Regions from separate parts of the Homo sapiens genome. Here region 2 is linked to region 1. The links come from fine-mapping of genetic effects on plasma protein levels. Region 1 holds a variant in brackets. A gene starts in the other region. All regions are shown on their reverse strands. Region 1 has its middle 3.6 kb from the start of ZFP1. Region 2 holds the start of COL28A1 (collagen type XXVIII alpha 1 chain).

The links. PIP is the chance, under the fine-mapping model, that this variant and not a neighbour inherited with it causes the effect. Protein levels are from antibody-based Olink assays in UK Biobank. Linkage for the fine-mapping came from a reference panel and not from the study's own genotypes, which makes the PIPs less certain.
Region 2: it holds the start of COL28A1, and the variant in region 1 is fine-mapped to the plasma level of the COL28A1 protein (UK Biobank, PIP 0.93).

Annotation. Positions count from the first base shown.
Region 1 is chr16:75,141,365-75,148,464 of GRCh38, reverse strand. It overlaps a transcript of ZFP1 not described here. Among named protein-coding and RNA genes, the nearest start is that of ZFP1, 3.6 kb to the left of the region's middle. RefSeq lists an enhancer at 81-130. The variant T/C (reference allele first, on the strand shown) is at 2,239.
Region 2 is chr7:7,526,831-7,543,314 of GRCh38, reverse strand. It overlaps COL28A1 (collagen type XXVIII alpha 1 chain), which reads left to right and starts at 7,442. Exons shown (of 35, transcript NM_001037763.3): 1 at 7,442-7,565; 2 at 10,403-10,563; 3 at 11,411-11,967. The coding sequence starts at 10,440.

The DNA of each region.
Region 1 (7,100 bases):
AGGGTCCTCGGAGGGGTGGACCATCCACGTTCGGGACTACATTTCCCACAAGCCTCCGGGGCCGCGGCTTTAGGGACTCTCAGGAAAGTCTTCGCCTTGTTAGGCGGTCTGATGAGCCGACCAAAATAATCTCCTTAGCCTGCACTGTTTTCTTTTTTCCCAGAGTGGGTCGTGAACTACAATTCACCACCTCCCCCTTAAATACAACAACTTGGCTTTTAAACATTACACAAATAATCTATAACTGTATTTAATTAGAATATATGTACAAAATAAAGTATCCATAATCTCACTTTCTAAAGATTAACTGCGTATAACATTAAGTTCGCACTTTGATTTTTTTGTTGTTGTTACAAAACTGGCCATAAAGGTATCATGTGCTGCAACTAGCTTTTTTCCCTTTTTTCCCAGGCCACTTTGTTGAGGTATATATATTTGTTGAGATCTATATATTTAAGATGTACAACTTGATATCTACATTTGTGAAATATTCACCATAATCAAGCTAATTAACATGTGCATCACCTCACATAGTTATTTGTCTGATGAGAACACTTAAGATCTATCTTCTTAGCAAATTTCAAGTACACAATATTGTCAACTATCGTCACATAGCTGTGCATCTCCCCAGAACTACTCATCTTGCATAACTGAGACTTTGTACCCCTTGACCACCATCTTCCCATTTCCCTTCACCCTCAGTTCCTTTCATCCTTTAGAACAGTTTTAGGTTCACAGCAAAATTTGAGCAGAAAATACATTGAATTCCCATATAACCCATGTCCCCCCAGCACACACAACCTCCCCAAAGTTGATATCCCACACCAGAACAGTGTATTTGTTACAATTGGTGAACCTACAGTTAAATATCAGCACCTGGCCAGGCTCAGTGGCTCACACCTGTAATCCTAGCACTTTGGGAGCCTGAGGCAAGCAGATTGCTTGAGCCGAGGAATTTGAAACCAGCCTGGCCAAAATGGTGAAACCTCATCTCTTAAAAAAAAAAAAAAAATACAAAAATTAGCCGGGCATGGTGGCACGCACCTGTAGTCCCAGCTACTCGGGAGGCTGAGGTGGGAGGATCACTTGAGCCTGGGAGGCTGAGGTTTCAGTGAGCCAAGATTGTGCCACTGCACTCCAGCTTGGGTGACCCTGTCTCAAAAAGTATAAATTAAAAAACAAAATCATTGGCACCCAAAGTCCATAGCTTACATTAGTGTTCACTTGATGTTGTACATTCTATGGGTCTTGACAAATGCCTGTAACCATTACAGTATCGTACAGAATAGTTTCACTGCCCCCCAAAAAATCATCTGTGCTCCATTTATTCATCCATCCCACAACCCCTGGAAATCTCTGATATTTTTACTGTCTCCATAGTTTTGCCTTTTGCAGGTTGTCATATAGGTGGAATCATACATATGTTGCTTTTTCAGATTGGCTTCTTTCATTTAGTAATATACATTTAAGTTTCCCTCATGTTTCCCTCAAGTTACCCTGGCTTTTTTTTTTTTTTTTTTTTTTTGACACAGGGTCTCACTCTGTCACCCAGGTTGGAGTGCAGTGGTGCGATCATGGCTCACTGCAGCCTCCACTTCCTGGGCTCAAGTGACCCTCCCAGTTCAGCCTCCCAAGTAGCTAAAACTACAGGCATACACAGCCATGCCTGGGTAATTTTTTGTATTTTTTGTAGAGATGGCATTTTGCCATGTTGCCCAGGCTCGTCTCAAACTCCTGGGATCAAGAAATCCTCCTGCCTTGGCCTCCCAAAGTGCGGGGATTATAGGGATGAGCCACTGTGCCCAGCCTCAGTTCGTTTTAGTGCTGCATAATATTCTACTGTCTGCATGTACCAGTGTTTTAAATCCATTCACCTACTGAAGATACATTGGTTGCTTCTAAGTTTTGGCAACTATGAATAAAGCTGCTCTAAACATCTGTGTTCAGGTTTTGTGAGGATATAAGTTTCCAGTTCATTTGGGTAAATCGTATGGTTGCGGCCGGGTGCAGTGGCTCACGCCTGTAATCCCAGCACTTTGGGAGGCCGAGGCGGGCGGATCACGAGGTCAGGAGATCGAGACCATCCTGGCTAACACAGCGAAACCCTGTCTCTAATAAAAATACAAAAATAAAAATTAGCCGGGCGTGGTGGCGGGCACCTGTAGCCTCGGCTACTTGGGAGGCTGAGCCAGGAGAATGGCGTGAACCTGGGAGGCGGAGCTTGCAGTGAGCCGAGAT[T/C]GCACCAATGAACTCCAGCCTGGGCGACAGAGCGAGACCCCGTCTCCAAAAAAAAAAAAAAAAATTAGCATGGTTGCTGGATTGTGTGGTAACAGTATGTTAATGAGACAGGAGAGTTCCCTGGACCCCTTCGCGGGACTTGTCGTGGCTAGCTTACTCAGCCACTGTGCTAAAACCCCTTATGGGAGGGGGAGCACAGAGGCAAGTGGGTGCCAGGGCCAGGGTGAGCACCTTTGGGCTCTGGCCCCATGGTAGCATCTAGGGGTGTGTTACAATTAATGCTCTTCTAGCAGTTGCCATCCATGGACAGCTAAGCGTTAACCAGCTCAGTGGAGAGTGAGGGTGACAGCCTTTTACACCCTGCCCTCTTAATACCCAGGTCCTTGTCCAGCATCCAGAAAGGATCAGGTCACATGGACTTGAAGAATGGTAAATGCAGAGGTTTTATTGAGTGAGGGAGGTGGCTCTCAGCAGGATGGGGAGCTGGAAAGGGGATGGCGTGGGAAGATAATCGTCCCCTGGAGTTCTGCTGTCCCTGGCCAAATTCCTCTCTGACCATCCAGCTACCTCTTCAATGCTCAATTGCTTCTTCTCTTTTCTCCTTCTCCACCACCTTGCTCTGCAGCTCTGCCCCTCTGCCCCTCTGCTGCTCTTCTGTTTGTGGAGCCTGGGATTTGGGGTTCTTATGGGCACAGGATAGAGAGCAGGGTGGGCCACAATGGTCTTGGAAAAGGCAACGTACAGGCGTGAAAACAGGAATGCCTGTTCTCATTTAGGGCCATGGGTCCAAGCTTGAGGGTAAGAACCCTCACCAGGAATCCCGCCCTCCTGCCTCCTGTCCATATCATTAGTTTTGTAAGAGACTGCCAACACTGTCTTCCAAAGTGGCTGCATCATTTTGCACCCACCAACAATGAATAAGAATTCCTGTTGCTCCAATTTCTCACCAGCATTTGTTGTCAGTGTCTTGAATTTTGGCCATTCTAATAGGTATGTAGTGGTAGCAGCTTGCTTTTAATTAAAACAATATCCTCAAACAGGTTCATAGAAAGGTGTTTACACCAATGTTCATAGCAGCATTATTCACAATATCCAAAGGTGGAGACAATCCAAGTGTCCATTAGCTGATGAATGGATACAGTGGAATATTATTCAGCCATATCAAAGAATGACGTTCTGGTACACGCTACAACGTGATTAAAACTTGAAAATACACTAAGTGAAATAAGCCAAGCTGGAGGTAGTGGCATGTGCCTGTGGCCCCAGCTACTCAGGAGGCCGAGGCAGGAAGATCACTTGACCCAGGAGTTCGAGGCTGCAGTGACCTATGATTGCACGACTGCACTCCAGCCTGGGTAGTAGAATGAGACTCTGTTTCTTAAAAGAAAAGAAAAGAAAAAAAGAAAGAAGGCAGACACAAAAGGACAAATACTGTATGATTCCATTTATATGACGTACCTAGGATAGGCAAATTTATAAAGACAGAAAGTAAAACAGAGTTACCAGGGACTGGAATAAAAAGGGATGGGGAGTTAGTGCTTAAACGGTATAGCGTTTCTGTTTGGGATAATGAGAAAGTTCTGGAAGGAGAAAGTGGTGATGGATATACAACATTGTGATGTGAGTGTACACATCAAATTTTTCTGAAGATCTTATTATACCAACATTTAAAAATTATAAATTACCATAACCTATAATCTTATGGAAAGATGTATATACAAGAATGTTCCTCACATTGCCATTTATATTTGCAAAACCTTGGGAAGGATCTAAAAATCTTTTAGTAGGTAAACGTAAAATAAATTGTGGTGATATGTAAGGAGAATTTGGGGAAACACTAAAAAGGATAATGTGTATTACCCACGTGGGGGTTATTTCATTGAGAAATGAAATAATACTGATCACACAAGAATATGTGCAGCGTAATCCTATTTTTGTAAAAAACTATGCATATTTTAAAAAGACTAAACACTGAACTATACGAAGAGAATGGAGAACTCCCCCCACACACACATACACACAAGATAAATTCCCCTTACCGCCTTATGTGTAACAGCACTGAGTAAGCACCACGTGTGTGGGCTGTACTTTTCAAGACCTTCTAAAATTCACAACCACATTGTCCTCTATTAATTTTCCCTGAAAAATAAAGAGAAAGTGTAGCGGGTGTTTCTGAGAAACACATTGCTGACCTGGCCAGCTCATGCAGAGGTTCTAAATGTTGACACCTTTTATTATACAGTATCAAACAACTACATTAATATCACCACTGGTGGCCGGTGCAGTGGCTCATGCCTGTAATCCCAGCACTTTGGGAGGCCAAGGCAGGCAGATCCCTTGAGCCCAGGAGTTTGAGACAAGCCTGGGGAACATGGCAAAACCATCTCTACCAAAAAAATAAACAAAAATTAGGTGGGCGCAGTGGCATGCACCTGTAGTTCCAGCTACTCTGGAAGCTGAGGTGGGAGGTTCACTTGAGCCCAGGAGGTTGACGCTGCAGTGAGCTGTGATCATGCCACTGCATTCGAGCCTGGGCAATAGAGTGAGACTATGTCTCAAAAAAAAAAAAAAAAAAAAAAGATTCACCTCCTGGATCCCCAGAAAAGGGCTTGGAGACCCCAGGGTCTGTAGATCATACTTTAAATGTAATAACAATATTATCACACATAAAAAATTAACAGGGCTGGGCACAGTGGCTCACGCCTGTAATTCCAGCACTTTGGGGGGCCAAGGCGGGCAGATCATCTGAGGTCAAGAGTTCGAGACCAGCCTGGCCAACATATTGAAACCCCATCTCTACTAAAAACACACAAAAAAATTAGCTGGGCCTGGTGGCATGCACCTGGAGTCTCAGCTACTTGGGAGGCTGAGGCAGGAGGATTGCTTGAACTCGAGGGGCGGAGGTGGCAGTGAGCCCAGATCACACCATTGCACTCCAGCCTGGGCAACAAGAGTGAGACTCCATCTCAAAAACAAAAACAAAACAAAAAATTCAGGCCCAGTGAATCCACGTACTCAGATTGTGTGATGTCTTCTCATATATACATTTCCCCTCTATATCTTTTTTTTTATTTGCCATTTAGTTGTTGAAAACACTGGGTTATTTATTCTAAGGAAATTCTATATGGTCTGGATTTTCCTAACCATGTTAAATTTTGTATATCAATTGTCAAAGTCAAATAAAATATAGAAATGAATCTCTAAATGTAAAATGTTTTATTTGGGGACTGGGTGCAGTGGCTCAGGCCTGTAATCCCAGCACTTTGGGAGGCCAAGGTAGGCAGATCACTTGAGGTCAAGAGTTCAAGATCAGCCTGGCCAATATGGTGAAACCTCATCTCTACTAAAAATATAAAAATTAGCTGGGTGTGGTGATGGACACCTGTACTCCCAGATACTTGGGAGGCTGAGGCAGGAGAATCACTTGACCCTGGAGGCCAAGGTTGCAGTGAGCTGAGATCGCACCACTGCACTCCAACCTGGGTGACAAAGTGAGACTCTGTCTCAAAAAATAAAAATATAGATAAAATAACAGGTTTTATTTGGGAAGCAAGAATTGCAATATGAGGCATCCACATAGACTGGGTAGTCTTCAGTATGTCAGAAGAATTAAGTGAAGTTTGGGAATTTTATGAGCAAGAGAAATATTATGAATTGTTTTGAAAGAAGCTCACTGGTGCTAGAGACACTTTTGGGAGCTAGCAAGCTCAGATTGGTGAGTGACAACAGTAGATTAAACTAGTCTTAGAGTGATGGCAGGTCACTTCAGCAGCTACTAGGTCCAACTGGTCTTAGGGTTACAGCAGGACGTTTCAGCAGCTGGCCTCACAGAAAATTTATTTTTCTTTTCTTTTTTTTTTTTTTAGGAAGTCTTGCTCTGTCACCAGGCTGGAGTGCAGTGGTGTGATCTCAGCTCACTGCAACTTCCACCTTCCGGGTTAAAATGATTCTCCTGCCTCAGCCTCCCGAGTAGCTGGGACTACAGGTGTGCACCACCACGCCCAGCTAATTTTTTTTTTTTTTTTGTATTTTTAGTGGAGACGGGGTTTCACCATGTTGGCCAGGATGGTGTCGATCTCTTGACCTTGTGGTCTGCCTGCCTTGGCCTCCCAAAGTGCTGGGATTACAGGTATGAGCCACCGCGCCCAGCCTCTTTTTTTTTTTTTTTTCTTTGAGATGGAGTCTTGCTCTGTTGTTCAGGCTGGAGTGCAGTGGCGCGATCTCGGCTCACGGCAATGTCTGCCTCCTGGGTTCAAGCAATTCTCCTGCCTCAGTCTCTCAAGTAGCTGGGATTACAGGCGCCCACCATCATCATGCCCAGCTCATTTTTGCATTTTTAATGGAGATGGGATTTCACCATTTTGGCCAGGCTGGTCTTGAACTCCTGACCTCAAATGATCCACTCGCCTCAGTCTCCCAAAGTGCTGGGATTACAGACTTGAGCCACCATGGTGCAGCCTCTTTTTCTCTCTTTTTTTTTTTTTAAATTAATTTGTTTATTTTGCAGAGACAGGGTCTCCCTATCCTGCCCAGGCTGGTCTCAAATTCCTGGTCTCAAGCAATCCTCCCAAACCTTGGCCTCTCAAAGCACTGGGATTATAGGCGTGAGCCACTACACACAGATAATTTATTTCTTGGAGTAAGTGCTATGTGCCCTAAGTGCATTTTTTTCTGACCTCTCAACTCTGATTTAGTTGGATATGACAAGAATGACCCAATTTGGGCTGGGCGCGGTGGCTCACGCCTGTAATCCCAGCACTTTGGGAGGCCGAGGCGGGCGGATCACAAGTTCAGGAGATCGAGACCATCCTGGCTAACACGATGAAATCCCGTCTCTGCTTAAAAAAATACAAAAAATTAGC
Region 2 (16,484 bases), not on the chromosome of region 1:
TGAAGTTTCAATGCACATGCACCTTTTTCTTTGTTTCATTTTTGTCTTACTTGTTCAAGAAGAGGAAAATGCCAACCAACATTCTTGTTGGAACTATACTCATTCATCAATTACAACCATAGATTGGCTAAAGATATAAGAATTTGGCCAAAAATCAATGAAAGCAATCTGTATGAATCAGTTTGCTATATAGAATTTATAATAGAGAATATTGTGTATTTTATTATTATTTGAAAATTTTATACCATACGTTCTTTATCAATAACATTTCTGATAAACTTACGTATGTATATGTGTACAATACACTTTTTTCCCCAGAGAGACAGTTATTAAATACTTTTTGGCAGACTGCTGGGTACCATCTTTCTCCTTCATTTCTTCCACTTTCCTAGGCCAATTAGGTACTAAGCTCTTTGATTCTGCTTCTTAATATTTCTTAGACTTCTTCACTTTGCATTCTCATTGCTGGTACTTGAGAGCCTTATCTCTCATTGGTGTCATAGTAAGTTTCCTAGTAGATCTCAGCCTCCAAGCTTGTTTTCCTGCCATTATTCACACAGCAATCAGAGTGATTTTCCTAGCATGAAAGTGTGATCATGTCACAACCCTGCTTAAAATTGTTCAGTGGCTCCCGTTGCTTTCAAGATAAAGTTTAAACCCTTTAACATGGCATAAAAGAAACCACTGTTTATCCTCTGCTCCTGCACTTCCAACTTCCATATCACAGTCTGACCTGGGTGCCCTCTGTGTAAGTCTCTTTTATAGATGTTATCACACTATATTGCTCTTGCTCTTTTTGGCCTAATATTTTGTTATGAAAATTGTCAAACATACAGAAAAGTTAACAGAATTATACAGCAAACCCATTACCTGCCACCCAGATTTCACAATTGTATTTACAATGAACATATTTGCTCTATTGCATAATCTACCCATCTACCCATTCTTCTACCCGTCTCTTTTCTTCTCTTTTTCTTTCTTTTTTTAGATGGGATCTCACTCTGTGGCCAGGCCGGAGTGCAGTGGTGCCATCTCAGCGCACTGGTTCAAGCAATTCTCCTGCCTCAGCCTCCTGAGTGGCTGGGATTACAGGCATGCACCACCACGCCCAGCTAATTTTTGTATTTTTAGTAGAGACGGGGTTTCACTATGTTGGCCAGGATGGCCTTGATCTCCTGACCTTGTGATCTGCCCGCCTCGGCCTCCCAAAGTGCTGGGATTACAGGCGTGAGCCACCGCACCCAGCCCCATCTTCTTTCTTTATGATGCATTTCAAAGTAAGTTGCAGACACTGGTAAATTTTGTTCCCAAACCCTGCAGCATGGTATTGTCAACTAGAGTTAGATATGTGATTACTTAATTTTTTTTTTTTTTGGGTAAAACTTGCCATTGCTCTTTACTTGCTTATTTTCTTCACTGGGTTGAAGTGACTGCATCTATCTGTTTTCTATCCAGTGCCTCACATATAGTAGAAACTAAGTTGATGTTAGTTAAGTGAATGAGTTATGGATTTCATCAGATGTTACTTAGAGAGCTTCTTGATCCTATATAAGAGTAGTTTTATCACTCTTTCGTTCGTCTCCTCATTCTTCTGCCCAAAAAAGCTGTAGAAAGCAACTTTTATTCCACCCGTTCAGCATCACAGACGATTAAAATTTTTCATCTGTTAACAATAGTTGACAAACTCTCACACTATGTCTTTCTACAAAGTCCCACAAGGTGGTGCCCAAATATCTTTTTTCAAACAACACTTCCTGAAGACCCATGCAGAGTCCTGACTAAATTGTGTTAGTATTTGGCATTTCTGAATTTGGTCAATTAGAATAACAGAAAATATATAATTAAGTAAAAGTTACTCAACATTAAATAACATTATATATGTGATTTCAAAATCTATAGTTCTGGATATAAACAATGAATAATGATAATAGGTACTTTATTTCTGTGTAGAATTTAGTATTATTAAAAGGTTGTTCATATCCCCAAATAGGAAAAAAAAAATTCACCTCAAGTCCCCTTTTCTATAAATTTTGTCCATGAATAATTTACCCTTAGTATAGAATTTCTAAGGGCAGAAGGAGAAACAAACTGTTGTGCAGGAGGAACTATATAATTTAGATGCAATGAAAAAAACAGATGACCCTATTACCTTAACTGGGAACAATGTTGTGTAAACCAGCATTGTAACGGCTTAATATAACATGGGATAATAAGTTACTTAATGCTCTTAAAACACTTTTATTCCAGAAATTTAGAAGAGTTATTTTAAAACTTTTTTTGGATATTCTTATTAAATCTCAATACACTGACCAGAAAACCCAAGTAGGTATTGTGTTTCTACAACTTAATATTCATGCAAATGATGATATCTACCTATATTACTGGCTATGTTTTGATTAGGGATCAGTTATTGAAGTAGCTGTAACAATCCCCAGCTACTCAGATAAACCTGTCCAAACCTGGAGGAGAAAGTTTTTCAACCCAGGGTTCGAAGAGGTGGTGTTCATTGCCTTTAATGGCCCAGGCACTAAGATTTACACAGTGAGAGGTGAGACTCTTTAATGTGCTGGGACTTAGCCCATGATGATTTGTTCTGAGCCATTTGCCACTAAAGTTAAATCCTTATAAATATAAATTATTAGCCATACAGCTTCCTTTTTCTCCTGCTCAAGCACAAGCCTGGATAGCGCAAAGGCCTAAAAATTTTCTAGGGCATTTAGAGATAATGAAAGATGGCCACTTTGATGCACAAAGACCTAAATTTTAGTCCCTCACTGATTAATGATTTGACCTTTGGGTGGGTCTTAATATCTGTCCTCTATTTTATCAACTGTGAAATGGCAGAATTAAATAAAAGTGGTTTCTAAGTTTCCTTCCAGTTCAGAGATTTAACACTATTGTTTGTCCCCAATACAAGAAAAGTTTAAATACCAATCAGTGGTTATCAAATAATTCACCAAGATCTAGAATAACACTGTCTAATATCTGAAAGTAAAATGAACTAAGTGAAAAATAGAAATATTTTGCCATTTAAAGCAGAGTTTAGTCAAGGTATAAATAGATCTGATCTTTCTCTATTTGTAGGCTCTGCATGAAAAAGTTAAAACTGCTCTATCCATTGACCAAAGAAAATAATTAAAGAAAAATATTGAACATTCAAACCTATGATAGGACTAGATCAATCTACTTTCAGATATTTCTTAGAAAAAAAATTGTAAAACTTTCCAGATGGCACCTTGATTTATTTTTGGTCTAAAATAATTGCATTTAGTCAGGAATAAACAACATGGAAAGAAGAAATATTAATATTGAAAAAATATTTTAGAGAAAGAGATTAATAGTCATAAGATTGGTATAACGGGAATTTAGCCTGTCACTGTAGCCTATGAGGCACTGTGTGTTGCAAATGTGACACAATTATTCAAGCTGGGGATTGAATGACAAATAATGAAGCAAGAGATCTTAGGGAGTAAACGATATAAAAGATAATTGAGTCCGTGTTGCTGTACCCCGAAACTGCTCTAAACCATAAAGTTTATTAAATAATAGTAACAATTGAAAAATAGTAGAGGGAATGTGGAAGGATCAACTCAATCAGAATTTGGTGAGGGCATAGGAACTGAAGTCACGCTGTTCCACATTTAAGCAATGCCACATCCTGTATTTTATTACCAATGATAATTTTTATTTTCTTATTGTCTTTGAATGCTTTTAATCTTTCCCTTTGTTGACAAATAAGACCAATACAGTTTTGGTGTTTGCCATGGTTTGCATATTTGCCCCCTCCAAACCTCGTGTTGAAATTTCATCCCCACTGTTGGAAGTGGGGCCTGATGGGAAACGTTTGGGTCATGTGGGTGGATCCCTTATGAATGACTTAATGCCATCCTTGCGGTAATGAGTGTGTTCTCTCTGTATTAGTTCCTGGGGGAGCTGATTCTTTAAAAGAGTCTGACACCTCTCTCCCTGCTCTCTTGCTCCCTCTTACCATATGATCTGCACACGCTGGTCCCCTTTCACCTTCTGCCATGAGTAGAAGCAGTCAATGGCCCTCACCAGAAGCAGATGCTGGTGTCATGCTTCTTGCATAGACTGCAGAATTGTAAGCCAAATAAACCTCTTTTCTTTATAGATTACTCAGCCTTAGGTATTCCTTTATAGCAACACAAAATGGACTAAGACAGTGTTCCTCTAATTACTGATGAAGGAGTTGAGAGAATGCCTAGGTCATATTCTGGGTCCAAGGATAATGAATCCCAGAAATTTCAGAGCTTTGGGGCAGGTGTTAGAAATTCTACTATATCAAGCTTTTCTACTGACAAAAAGAAGAAAGAGAAAGAAAGAAAGAAAAAGAAAAAAAGAAAGAAAGAAAGGAAAGGATCTTCAAGAACAAATTTCTTCAAATCAGGTACGAAGGTCATTAATTTCTTCCTTGTTAGTTGGTAATGTTTTTTTTTTTCTACTCTAGATCAGCAGTGTGGGAGGTGGCTAAAATAGGGAGAAGCTTGTGAAACTATACTATGCCTTAATCTTGGTCAAAATATATAACTTTGATTTGTTACCAGCCTTTTTTTGTGTGTATTTCTATGACTTCATGCAGATACAATTCTCTGAAATATGTAAGTCCTAGCAGACTTGTCTCTTTTTAAATGATTCTAGGACCCCAAAATATCATCACCACTGAAATTAAGATGTTGGCACTGGTACTAGAATCAATAAACACAATGCAGATGCTACTATGGTAGCATATTAAAAGAATTTGAAAAAGTTGAAAAAAGATTTTCATCTAGCAGAGCTTTGGAGAAGAGCAATTTATTGTATCACAGACCTCAAGTGACTGATAAACACTAAAAATTACTTCTAATAATCATTTATTTCACAAATATGACTGCTTACTCTGGGCTATTTATAGTAGTAACAATGAAAATAGTGTGCTATATTTCTTCCATAAAGACTTTTACTACAAAATAACTGTCAGAAGGGCATGGGCTCCACGTTGCCTTTTTCTAGTCATTATGGTTATCCATGCTCTCTTATTTGTTCTGGTGTAAGTCCAATAGCATACTAATTCAAGACCATCTGTTGGGATTAAGATTGTGGTGCATTGTTTCTCTGGGTGCAAAACTAATTGTCTTTTATAGATTGATGAAACTGAAGATTTTATTTTGCATAATCTTCCCAATTAATTTAGTGCTGATTTTCACGCTTGAGAATGAGAGGTGGCAAATCTTTGGTTTGAGTTACCCTATTTAATGTTGGAGAATGAAAGGGAATGGATGACTAAGTTGGACTCCAACCTCCCACCAACTTTAATCAAAACAGCTCCAAGGCAGGAGGGCTTTAGTCCATTTCCCCCATCTAGGAATCACCTGTTTGCTTCTTAGTGGCATTATTATTCTGCATGTTTTTAACCTGCCTCAGCAAAAAGAGAGTTGACCTGAAAAGATGCTACTTCCTTGTCTCTTGATTCTCATCTTACAAAAGTAAAAAGTGTGACTAACACCCATAGGCTATCAGGTAAATACATGGTTGTTCCCTAGGAAATTCCGTTGTTATTTCTGCATTATACCCACCGTTTCTTCTTTCTGTTACCAAAGCCTCACAAAACTTCCTCAGTTCCTCGAAACCTGTTTTGTGAGGAGGAGACAGTGAAAACACAGACGTTCGCATAGATACTTAATGATGCAGTAGTTGTTATAAGTGAGGCTCACAGGTCTTACCAGCCTGAGTTAAAAGTTCATTTTGCCATTCTCTGGTTTTAGTATGACAGCGGACAAGTTACTGAACCTCTCTCTGCCTCCATCTTGGAAAAATTCGAATTCTTACAACATCTACTAAGTACAAGGGGTCCTGGAATAATATTTTGTTCAATGTCATTTTGTTATAACATTGATGAGAAAAAAAATTCAATTCCTGGGCCAGGCTCACTGTGTGGAGTTGACATGTTTTCCCCATGTCTGTGTGGGTTTTCTCCAGGTCCTGGAGTTTCCTCCCACATCCCAAAGCTTTGCCCATTAGATGCATTGGTGTGTCTACATGGTGCCTGTCTGAGAGAGTGGGTGGGTGTATGAGTGCCCTTTGACAGTACTGCATCCTGTCCAGGGCTGGTTCCTGCCTTGTATCCTCAGCTGCTGGGACAGGATCTGGTCAACCGTGACCCTGAACTGGAATATGCAGGTAAGCAGTTATCTTGTTTTTATCAATCTTTCATAAATGTATATATAGCTTAGATTTATTTCAATGTTTATTATTAGAGGTGTTTTGAGTATTTAGAGGTTTAGTGATGTTTTTGTGACTAGGAATATGCCATAAGAGCTTAACTCTTATTTATATCAATTAGCTCTTGGGAAAATTGTCTTCATTATCAATTGTTTCACTTTATGTCACAGTTTCCAGAACCTACAGAGGACATTAAGTGAGGACTTACTGTATATAGGTGGTTGTGCTTGTGAAGGATTAAATGAGGTAATGTGTGTGAAGCACTCAGGACAGTGCCTAGCACCTGGTAAGTGTCCATGAATTGGAGGCTATTATTGCTGTAATAAGGAAATTCATACACATTAAAATGGCTAAGAAAGTTCATTTTAAATAACCGTAACATGCACATTTGTATTGCTTTCTCGGATGATCTTGCTATTCTCTATTTCAGAGGAAGTCCGTGGAGAAGCCTGCCTGTTAGCTGTCTAGGGGTCAGGTGGCTTCTTGGCAGTATATATTACATGATAAACATTGACTTAATATGGACCATAACCACAAGGTAGAAAATAGGGAAACAGGGAGTGGAAAAACCACAGTGATCCTTTCCTAGAGAGAGACCAAAATATTAACCGCTGTAAACCTCTCATGTTACAGTTCGAACACATCTTAATAAATGATTAAATCTACTCTCTCATTTCATAAGTGGGGAACTGAAGCCCCCATAAAAGTTAGGGGCAGAACTATGACTATACTCAGACCACTCTTTCCCTGTATATTATATATACCTTTTATTATAAAAAATTTCAAAAATCACAGAAATACAAAGACTAGAACAATGCACACCTATGTACTCATCATCCAGCTTTAATAACAATCAAACTGTTACCTCTCTTAAAAAAACAGCTTTGATTCTGAGTCTGGTGTCATTTATACTCCTTCACAGAGATGTTCAGAACCAGTATCTTAGAGCACATCCCCCAGGCAAAGAAATGTAGCAATAAAAAGAGAAGGACATAGCATGAGAAAAAAAGGCAGGCTGTCAACCAATGCCTAAAATGTAGAAAGTTCTCTCAAGTTGTTTTTACAATAGTCTGGAAAACACAGTCTCATTCTGAAAGGACACTGTTCCTTTAAATTGCTTACTGATCCCACCCAGATCTTGCACCCTGGCCAAATGCCTGACCACTCTTGCTTTGACTTAGTCGAATAAACATGAACAAAAGACTGCAAAAGATCCTAAAGCAAAGACACTTTTATTTCCCACAGAACAGAACAATATCAAATAGCTAACTTCACCCCCAACCACAGTCCTTGCTGTTGGCATTTACTCAACTAGTCTTTAATTCCTGTTTGACAAACTTTATAAGGTAAGACATAACAGATTTATTTTAGTCACTTGAAATCAGATAGGACCATCAAGGAACTGTGGAAGACTAAATGACTTACTTACATAATTATTAGGTGAGAAAGCTTGTCAATAGTTTGTATTCTCTGCAATTACTTCAAATCAATTATTAGAAAAATATTAACATTGTTAAAATGTAGAAATTTAAAACTTAAAATTATTTTGAAATGGATTTTTAATTTACAGTCTTCTAAATTGTTTTACAACGATGTTAATATATTTTAGGACATCTTTTTCTTAATTTGGAACAGGGTTTACAATTCAGAATTAGTTATAGAATACTTTACAACTTGGCTAATTTGTCAATTTGAATAAAGTCTTTATTCAATCATTTTCTATTTGTGTAGAAACTGAGATGCAAACATTGTAACTAAAGTTGGTGAACTCTGATATAAGATCATTTTATTTTTGAAAAATTATAAAAAATAAAGTATCTTGGATTTATTTACTGATCCTGATATTTACCCCAAATAAATTTTAGGCCAAAAGTAAAACTACGGTATTTGATTAATAATTATGATTGTTTCTGCATTTATAAAATGTAACCTATAGTAAACACAGAGGTTCACATTTCTTTCACTTAACTAATGGCACTGTTTCCTCTGAAACCTATTTTGCTTGTACGTGACATCAGAAAGAGAGAAAGGTGAGAATTATTAAAAACAGAGGCAAAATAAAACATGGTAAAAAGTGATTAGAAATGAGTGGGCTCTCAAGATGCCAAATTAATAAACGAGAAAGATATTTCAGGGAAGCAGTAGAACTAACAAGCTAGAGAAACAAATCTAGAGAGGTATGAAAATGTCCTCTGGCTACAATAGGGAAACAGAAAGAAATAACAAGACTTTGGTTTGGGAGAGCTAGATTAACAATGTCAGAGCAAATAAGAACAAAATATGAGATACTGGGATTATTGTCAATGGAAAAGTTATGTTTGTGAATATCATATATACAGGGATCAGGTACAAATTCATGATTATATGCCAAGAAAACAGTAAGAGCAGGTGCTTAGTTTTGGGAAAAGATAAATCTTTATTTAAAGCCAGTATTTCTAAAACCTTACATGAAGGGTTTTGAAGAGTTGCTTGATTATGTTGCTTATAAAATCTTGCTCAGTTCTCAATGGAATTCAGTTCTCAGCCTCTTATTTCCAGAACTTCTGAGATGTTCCTTATGGTATGAACTCAACCAAAGAGAAAAGTCATATGTAATACCATGGCCATGGTGTTATTCCCTTTCCCCTTTGAAAATGCAATAACAACTGTGTTTTTCACATAGCCTTATCTTTACACTAACCTTCAGACTTAAAGTTGTACATCATTTATTTTTTTCCTTGGTTAGCAAAGGGACAACTTGAGGAGAGATGGCCTTTGTGTGTTCTGTTTCCTTAGCACATTTCTTGGTTTTGTTTTGTTTTTAATACCCAGCTGTCTTTACATTTTAGTATACCTTGTCTGAGGATCAGTTGGCATTTGGCCAATTGCTACACAAGATGTTTGGTCATACCTATCCAAAGTTCTTTTAATACACTTCCAGCTGGATGATGCTATGTGAGGAGCAGACTGTGGCATGAAGCCATCCATTGGTCCTCTCCTAACCCAACAGTTTTGTTTCCCTTTGGGGTTTATCCATCTGGCATGTATGAAAAAAGTCAGTCTCCATCTCACTCCTCACTGCCTTTGCATATATTTCCACTCTCTACTCAGAGTCTGGAAAAATCGTGCTCATGATTTCCCAGATTCTTATCCCCTAAAGGCAAGGTGCCAAAGAAGGAAAATGTGATTCCTTTTCCAGAACTCCTGAAGTCAATAAAGTTTCAGCAGGCAAGCATTTTTAAGCCATACTAAGTATTGATTCGAAATAAGCTTTCTCGTTCCCATTCTCTTGGGTATACTGAGGCAGCAACACATGAGTCTTCTCCTCCCAGGGAAATCTGTCAGTTTAAGAGTCAGTTGGTGTGTAGCTAGGCATATTGACTGATGAAGATTGAGGATTTTAATACAGAATTAGATTTTTCGTTGTTAATCCACCCAGAAAAATAGTTTCACGGGGCTATTCAGAGGGGGTGCTTCTTGGCTTTAAGTCCCGTTTCTGTCCATTAGTTCTTTTAGCCATCACTGGAAGAAGAGTGTTGCTTTTAAGCAAATCTATTATTTTTGCTCTCATACTCTTTTGATTCATTGCATATGCAGCTTTGAACCCCTGGTGGAGACAAAGTTTCCAAAGCTAGGGTAGAAAAGAGAGATGGGGTTCTATGGAAACAGAAGGGTCGTTTAATTTTTACCTTGACCTCTGAACTCACTGAAGTTATGTGTGTAGTATTAAGCCTGAAAGGGTGGTGGTTGTCTACAGTTCTACAAAATACTAGATTTGTCAGGAATCAGTTATAATGAAAGTGAATGAAATGACCATATAGCAATCTGAATTCCCCCTGAAGAATTTGGAAATGTCAAAGCAGACCCTGTGATTGAACCACAGTAATCATATAGAGCGGGATTGAAATGTTTTTAAATGGCTCTCCCAACTCTATGCTCCTCAAAATACAATGCGGAATTAAGAATACTTAAATATAGTTCTTTGAATATATAGAAATATTCACTAATAAATGTTTGGTCATGGTGCCATGATTTATTTGGATTGAAATCTTTCAAAATCTCAATGTGAATATTTTTCTAGAAATATGAATGAAAACCTCTTTTTTCCAGTCACATGCCAGTTTTCAACCCTGCTGGCTTGAAATTTAAAAATAACAAACACCATATTTTATTAAAGTATTTGTAACTGACTTTTCTATTAAAGGTGCTACAAGACAGATGATTTTTCACCATCTACCATAATGTGGAACAGATATTTTGTCTTCTATCTCCTGCTTTTGTCAGCGTTTACGAGTCAAACAGTATCCGGACAAAGAAAGAAAGGACCAAAATCAAATTTGCTTGCAAGGAAAAGTGATGTCCAGGGTAAAAAAAAAAAAATTGTTTGTTTTTAAGTTTAGCCTGTTAAAAATACTTATGTGAATTTTTCTAAATAGCATTTGATATAAATAGCAAGCCATATACATGTATACATGTGATAGTCTACTTTGATAAAATTATATGATGATAATATACCTTACATACTTATAGCACATCAGAGTCTTTAATAAGAGCACTTGTGCACTTATTATCTCATTTGAGCCTCACAGTAACCTTGTAAAATAGGCAGGACGGAGATTGCCACTCATAGTGTAGATTAAAAAAATTGAGGTCTTAACAGGTCGAGTGGCATACTCAAGGCCATAGGCAAATTAACCACTGAGACACAGAGCTGGGATTTAAACTTAAGTTGTGTTTAAGTTAGGTTTCTTCTCCACTTACTCTTGGTATAGGGGGTATAGTCATTTTCTCCCTTGATTTCAAGAAAGTTTAAAAAAAAATAGGGACTCACCAATATGACACAACCTGAGAATTAGAGTATCATTTACTTCTAGACAACTATGCTCAGTGTTAGTTGGATTTTTAAAATGTGATGCATCTTGACTTCCCATTTCCTCCCACTTTCAGCAGGTTTAACATTGAAAAGATGCTCAGAATAAAAGATATCTTATTTATTTTTAATTTGCATGATTTTACAAGGAGAAAATAATTCATAAACTTAGACATTTAGTTTTTTACAATTGAAGCCTTCTGTCCAACGTGTCTCTCTTTCTCTCCTCACGCTGCTCTCAACACCAAACAATATACAACACACCACTTCAGGGCTTTCCGTATGCAAATTTGTTTCATGATAGGAATAATTATTTTGCCTAACCTGTTTATTCTGTTTCAGGCTCCATTTGTTTCATAGATATTGTCTTCATCGTGGACAGCTCTGAAAGTTCTAAAATTGCCCTCTTTGATAAACAGAAAGATTTTGTGGATAGCTTGAGTGACAAGATTTTCCAATTGACTCCTGGTCGCTCCTTGGAATATGACATCAAACTGGCAGCCCTTCAGTTTAGCAGCTCTGTCCAAATTGATCCACCTTTTTCTTCCTGGAAGGACCTGCAGACATTTAAGCAGAAGGTCAAGTCTATGAATTTAATAGGGCAAGGTACCTTCTCTTATTATGCCATTTCCAATGCCACTAGGCTACTTAAGAGAGAAGGGCGTAAGGATGGTGTGAAAGTGGTTTTGCTGATGACTGATGGCATCGACCATCCAAAGAATCCAGATGTTCAAAGTATTTCTGAAGATGCCAGAATTTCAGGAATATCATTTATCACCATTGCACTTTCTACGGTAGTCAATGAAGCCAAACTTCGTTTGATTTCTGGGGATTCATCCAGTGAACCCACTTTACTGTTGAGTGATCCAACCCTTGTAGATAAAATTCAAGATCGTCTGGTAGGTACCTAATGGGTTGATTATACAGTTATCATCATAATATTGACATATTTGTTGTAAATCCCATAAGAAGAGATACTGGGTCAAAAAGATGGAGAAAATGAGAGTTAACACTGAAAACAGAAAGAAGAATCTTTCTGAAGTGTCACTCCACTTTCTTGGCAGTTTACTCCAGACAATCTGGAAAAGTTCCAGGCTAATTCCCTGGAATTGCATTTTTAACTTTATTGCTAGCTGATGCTGAGGATTTTGGAAGGGGTTATTTTCCAATCATATACCTTAAGCTCCTGTTTATACAGCCTACAATCATGAACATTGCTGACTTATATTCAGGTTGTGCTCAACTTGAGGTGTTAGGCTATATTTGTACCAAGTTGGTCTTTTCCCATTCCACATCTGTACAGGTATTTTTGACATAATCTTGACATATTCTCTCTTACTCTTCTAAAGGACTGAGTATTTTTGACTCTGTCTCACCTATTGTTACATTATGCTACTCAAAGTTCATAGACTTCCAATTTTTAAAATTACCTCCTTCTTTCTTAGATGTTCTCAAGCCCATCCAATTTAAAATCATCTGCAACCTGCAGTCAAGCAACAGTTTCTCCCATCAAATCAATGAGTCCCACTTGATAGGTCTGGTCAGCTTTTCTTTGTTTGTTGCTCAGCTGTGTATAAAAGCCTTTCCTTGCTGCTTTGTAAAACACACGGCACCACAATCAAAAGGAAATCCCTCTTCACAATATTTCTCAAGGAGAAAACGCCTAGAGATAAATTGGTTGATTGGCTGAGTGTTAAAAACTGATTTTCTTAAAAACTTGGATTTCTTTGATTTCCTGAGAAAGGAAGGCAAAGGTGTCCTTTATGTACTGAGCGTTTCATATGGCTGTTTTCTACAGCTTGCACAGAAAACTCAGGCTCTATTTCAGAGATTGTTTTGCTCCTTTTGTCTTATCCCTCGATCTTTTTCTCAACATTACTCTTATCTTTTTACTCTCTGTTGCTTTCAGCATAAGATCTGAGGTTTTCTTACCTAAATAATAGCTCTTAGGTATTGAGTACTCTCTCTGTATTAGGCATTTTCCTGAACACTTTATATATTTTATTTTATTCAATGTTTGCCACAATCTTATGATGTAGGTAATGTTATTATACCCATTTTGTAGTTGAAAATTTAAGGCCGGTGAAGACCTCACAGTTTGCATGCTTAACCCTATAAAGGCATATTGAGAGAGGAAATAGTAACTGCTTTTTAAAAAAATATTTTCTCAATCAGAACTGCTCTGAAACAGTTTGGTAGCAGCCCTCCTCCAAAGTTACTATTGTTTCTAGCCTTTTTTTCCTTGGGGATTCGGGGTAAATGGGAGAGTTATGCCTAGATCAGAGATAGAGCTGATGGGCCCAGTCCTGTGGTGCTCAAGGTAAGTACTCATTCTGAGCAGCTCTTTTGCATGAAAGGGAAATTTGTAGTGGTTCCTGGCTAACACTTAGCCCTGCCTGTGCCATGACTTAAGGGGTCCTCACCACTGAACATAAAACAGAGGGCTCCAGCCCGTGTGGGAGAGAATCCTGGTGATGTGGTCATGAGTGGGCTGTTGTTACTTATTCATCTTCACCTTAAGATGGATAAGAGCTGACCATAGAAGATGCGGGACAGGCAGCTCCTTGTTTGGCCACAGGTGTAGGCTCAGGTTGTTCATATTCCCACCAGATACACCCTCGCTGAGAGCACCTGCTTCACTGAGAACACAGGCTCTTGGCAGTAGACTGGAAGCAAAATTGTTTGTCTGTTCCTGGGCAAACAGAAAATGACTGAATACTGCTCTTCCTTAGCATCCGGCGACTTCAGCTTGTTTGTTTAGCATCTGTGATTTCAGCTTGTTTGTTCAGATGGAAGCTCCATGAATAAACCACTTTTTAGAAGGAGGTGCTGCTTTCCAAACACTTACAGGATCCAAAGTGCTTATTAGGCTCTTCAAAGAATGGTATACCAACTTTCAATGTTACAAATTGCCACCATCTAGAAGGCAGAACTTGACTCTTTTTTTTTTTTTTTTTGAGACAGAGTTTTGCTCCTGTCACCCAGGCTGGAGTGCAGTGGCACGATCTTGGTTCACTGCAAACTCTGCCTCCCGGGTTCAAGCGATTCTCCTGCCTTAGTTTCTCAAGTAGCTGGCATTACAGGCGCCTGCCACCATGCCCGGCTCATTTTTTTGTATTTTTGAGTAGAGATGGCCAGGCTGTTCTCAAACTCCTGACCTCAGGTGATCTGCCCGCCTCGGCCTCCCAAAGTGTTGGGATTACAGGTGTGAGCCATCGCGCCGGGCCCAGAACTTGACTCTTGATGAGACCATTGGAAAAATTCTTTATCTAATCCCTTTCTATTACATCTTTAGTTGAATTTTTAAACTTTTTATTTTAAAATAATTATGTAGTTGACTTTTTAAATAAGTTAATTAGGTATGATTTAAGTACACAACTGCATTAACTTAAAGGGCACAATTCCATGAGCTTTTGACATAGGTACACACCTATGAAACTACCAACACAATTAGGATAGAGAACATTTCCATCACCTCCCCAAATTGCCTCATATCTCTTTGTAAGACCCCATTTGCTCCTGAGCTACTGATCTTACTTTTGTGACTCTAGATTAGTGTATACTTTCTAGAATTTTATACAAACTCAAATAGTATGTATTATTTTTGTGTCAGGCTTCTTGTACCCAGTATAATGATTTTCAAACTCATCAGGGTTTTTTTCTGTATCAGAAGTTTACTCCCTTTTATTGTAGAATAGACTTTAGTTGAATTTAATGGACACGAGTATACAGAATGAATAGATTCTTCAGGAGCAAAGACAAAACAAATCATTGCAAATTCCTTGATGCCTCTAGTAGGAATTATCATGTAAGAACCCCATAGAAACATTTTAGTTCTGAATTACTCAAAAGAGACTTAATGACTCCAAATTGAAGAAGACATGTAATATATTTTTATTGCTATTTTTATTATAATTTACATAATAGTATTGAAACCAAACAAACAAATTCATTCCAAAGTCCTGGATATATTACTTGGTCCTGTAGAAGAGTAAGAGAGGATATGTGAAAATTAAAGACAATTTTTTCCCTCTATTGCCTTTGATGTTAAGTATTTAAAAAGCCTTTATGGAAATAAGGGTTGTGACAAATTTGTCTTTTTTTCTGAACGATTTTTAAAAAACATAAATTTAAGGTATTCCCTCCCTCACATACCAAGAAGAGATCAATGTGATGATGTCTATATCATCTTTAGAATCCTATGCTTTCTTAATCTATTAATTATGATCACTTTCCATTTTTTCAAGACTTCCTCTGTTTAGGGCCTTATTTTTCTGTTTTAGATTTTATAGTGGCCATTTTGCTACCATTTTAAGTTGAATTTTTTTGTCACAGGGTTTGTTCCCCTTGCCTACCGAGTGCTTTGCTGTCATTCCATGTGCTGTGATATTTGTCCATCCCTCACATGTTTTCTGTCCCCTTCTCACAGCATAAACCTTATACTCCTTGAAAAATTGGTGATTCCATTCTAGCATTCTGGTTTTGCATATATAGTATATGTGAATATATGCCATATATATGAATCCATTAATGAAATTCTGACTGCATCTTCTTTTGCTGTCATGAGACCCTTTCCCTATTTATCCTTTTCATTGAAACTCAAGCATGCCCCCAGTCTGTCATTGAACATGGCCTCCCGTCAGGCTTTGACACTGTTCTCCTTGCAGCCTGCTTCCCTGCCTGAGTGCAAGCCCTCGCCACCTCCCAAGGCCTCCGGCTCTGTCCATGTGGGCCCTTCCATCCACTCCCTTTAAATGTTCCTCATAACTACTTCCTTTGTCTTATTGCCCACACTAGTCCTTATGACTTTTTTCCTCATCAACTTTGACATATAGGACAGCATACCATCAATGGGTGGTCCTTTGCATTCCTCTCTTCAAAACCATCCAGAAAACCCACCTATTCCAAGAAGCCATCTTGTTAGCGGCTCCCCCGCCCCTGGCCTAGGACCTCCTTCCTACTCGGGTTGCTGTGTGTTGTCCTCTGTTCCTGGGGCTTATAGCCTATAAGAGCCCTCAGGGATGGGGCTTTGTTCTTTGTTTGAAACAGTCTTATCTATTGTGTAGTTTTGGGTTCATTTTTGTTTCCATAGAAATATAAATTCCAGCAAACACAAAATTAAATGAGTTCCAAAAATAGTTTTTTGCATTGCTATGGTTTTAAGCCTTATGCCACATATTTCTAAAGAGCAATATGGCAAAGAAGAAATTGAATTTTAAAAGAAAGAACTGAAAAAAGTATAAAATTACACATCAGGCACAGTAAGAGCTGAATTCGTGAATTTAAAAATTGATTAAGATATTGCTTATTGTGGCTAGGTGCGGTGGCTCACACCTGTAATCCCAGCACTTTGGGAGGCCAAGGTGGGTGGATCACTTGAGGTCAGGAGTTTGAGACCAGCCTGGCCGACATGATG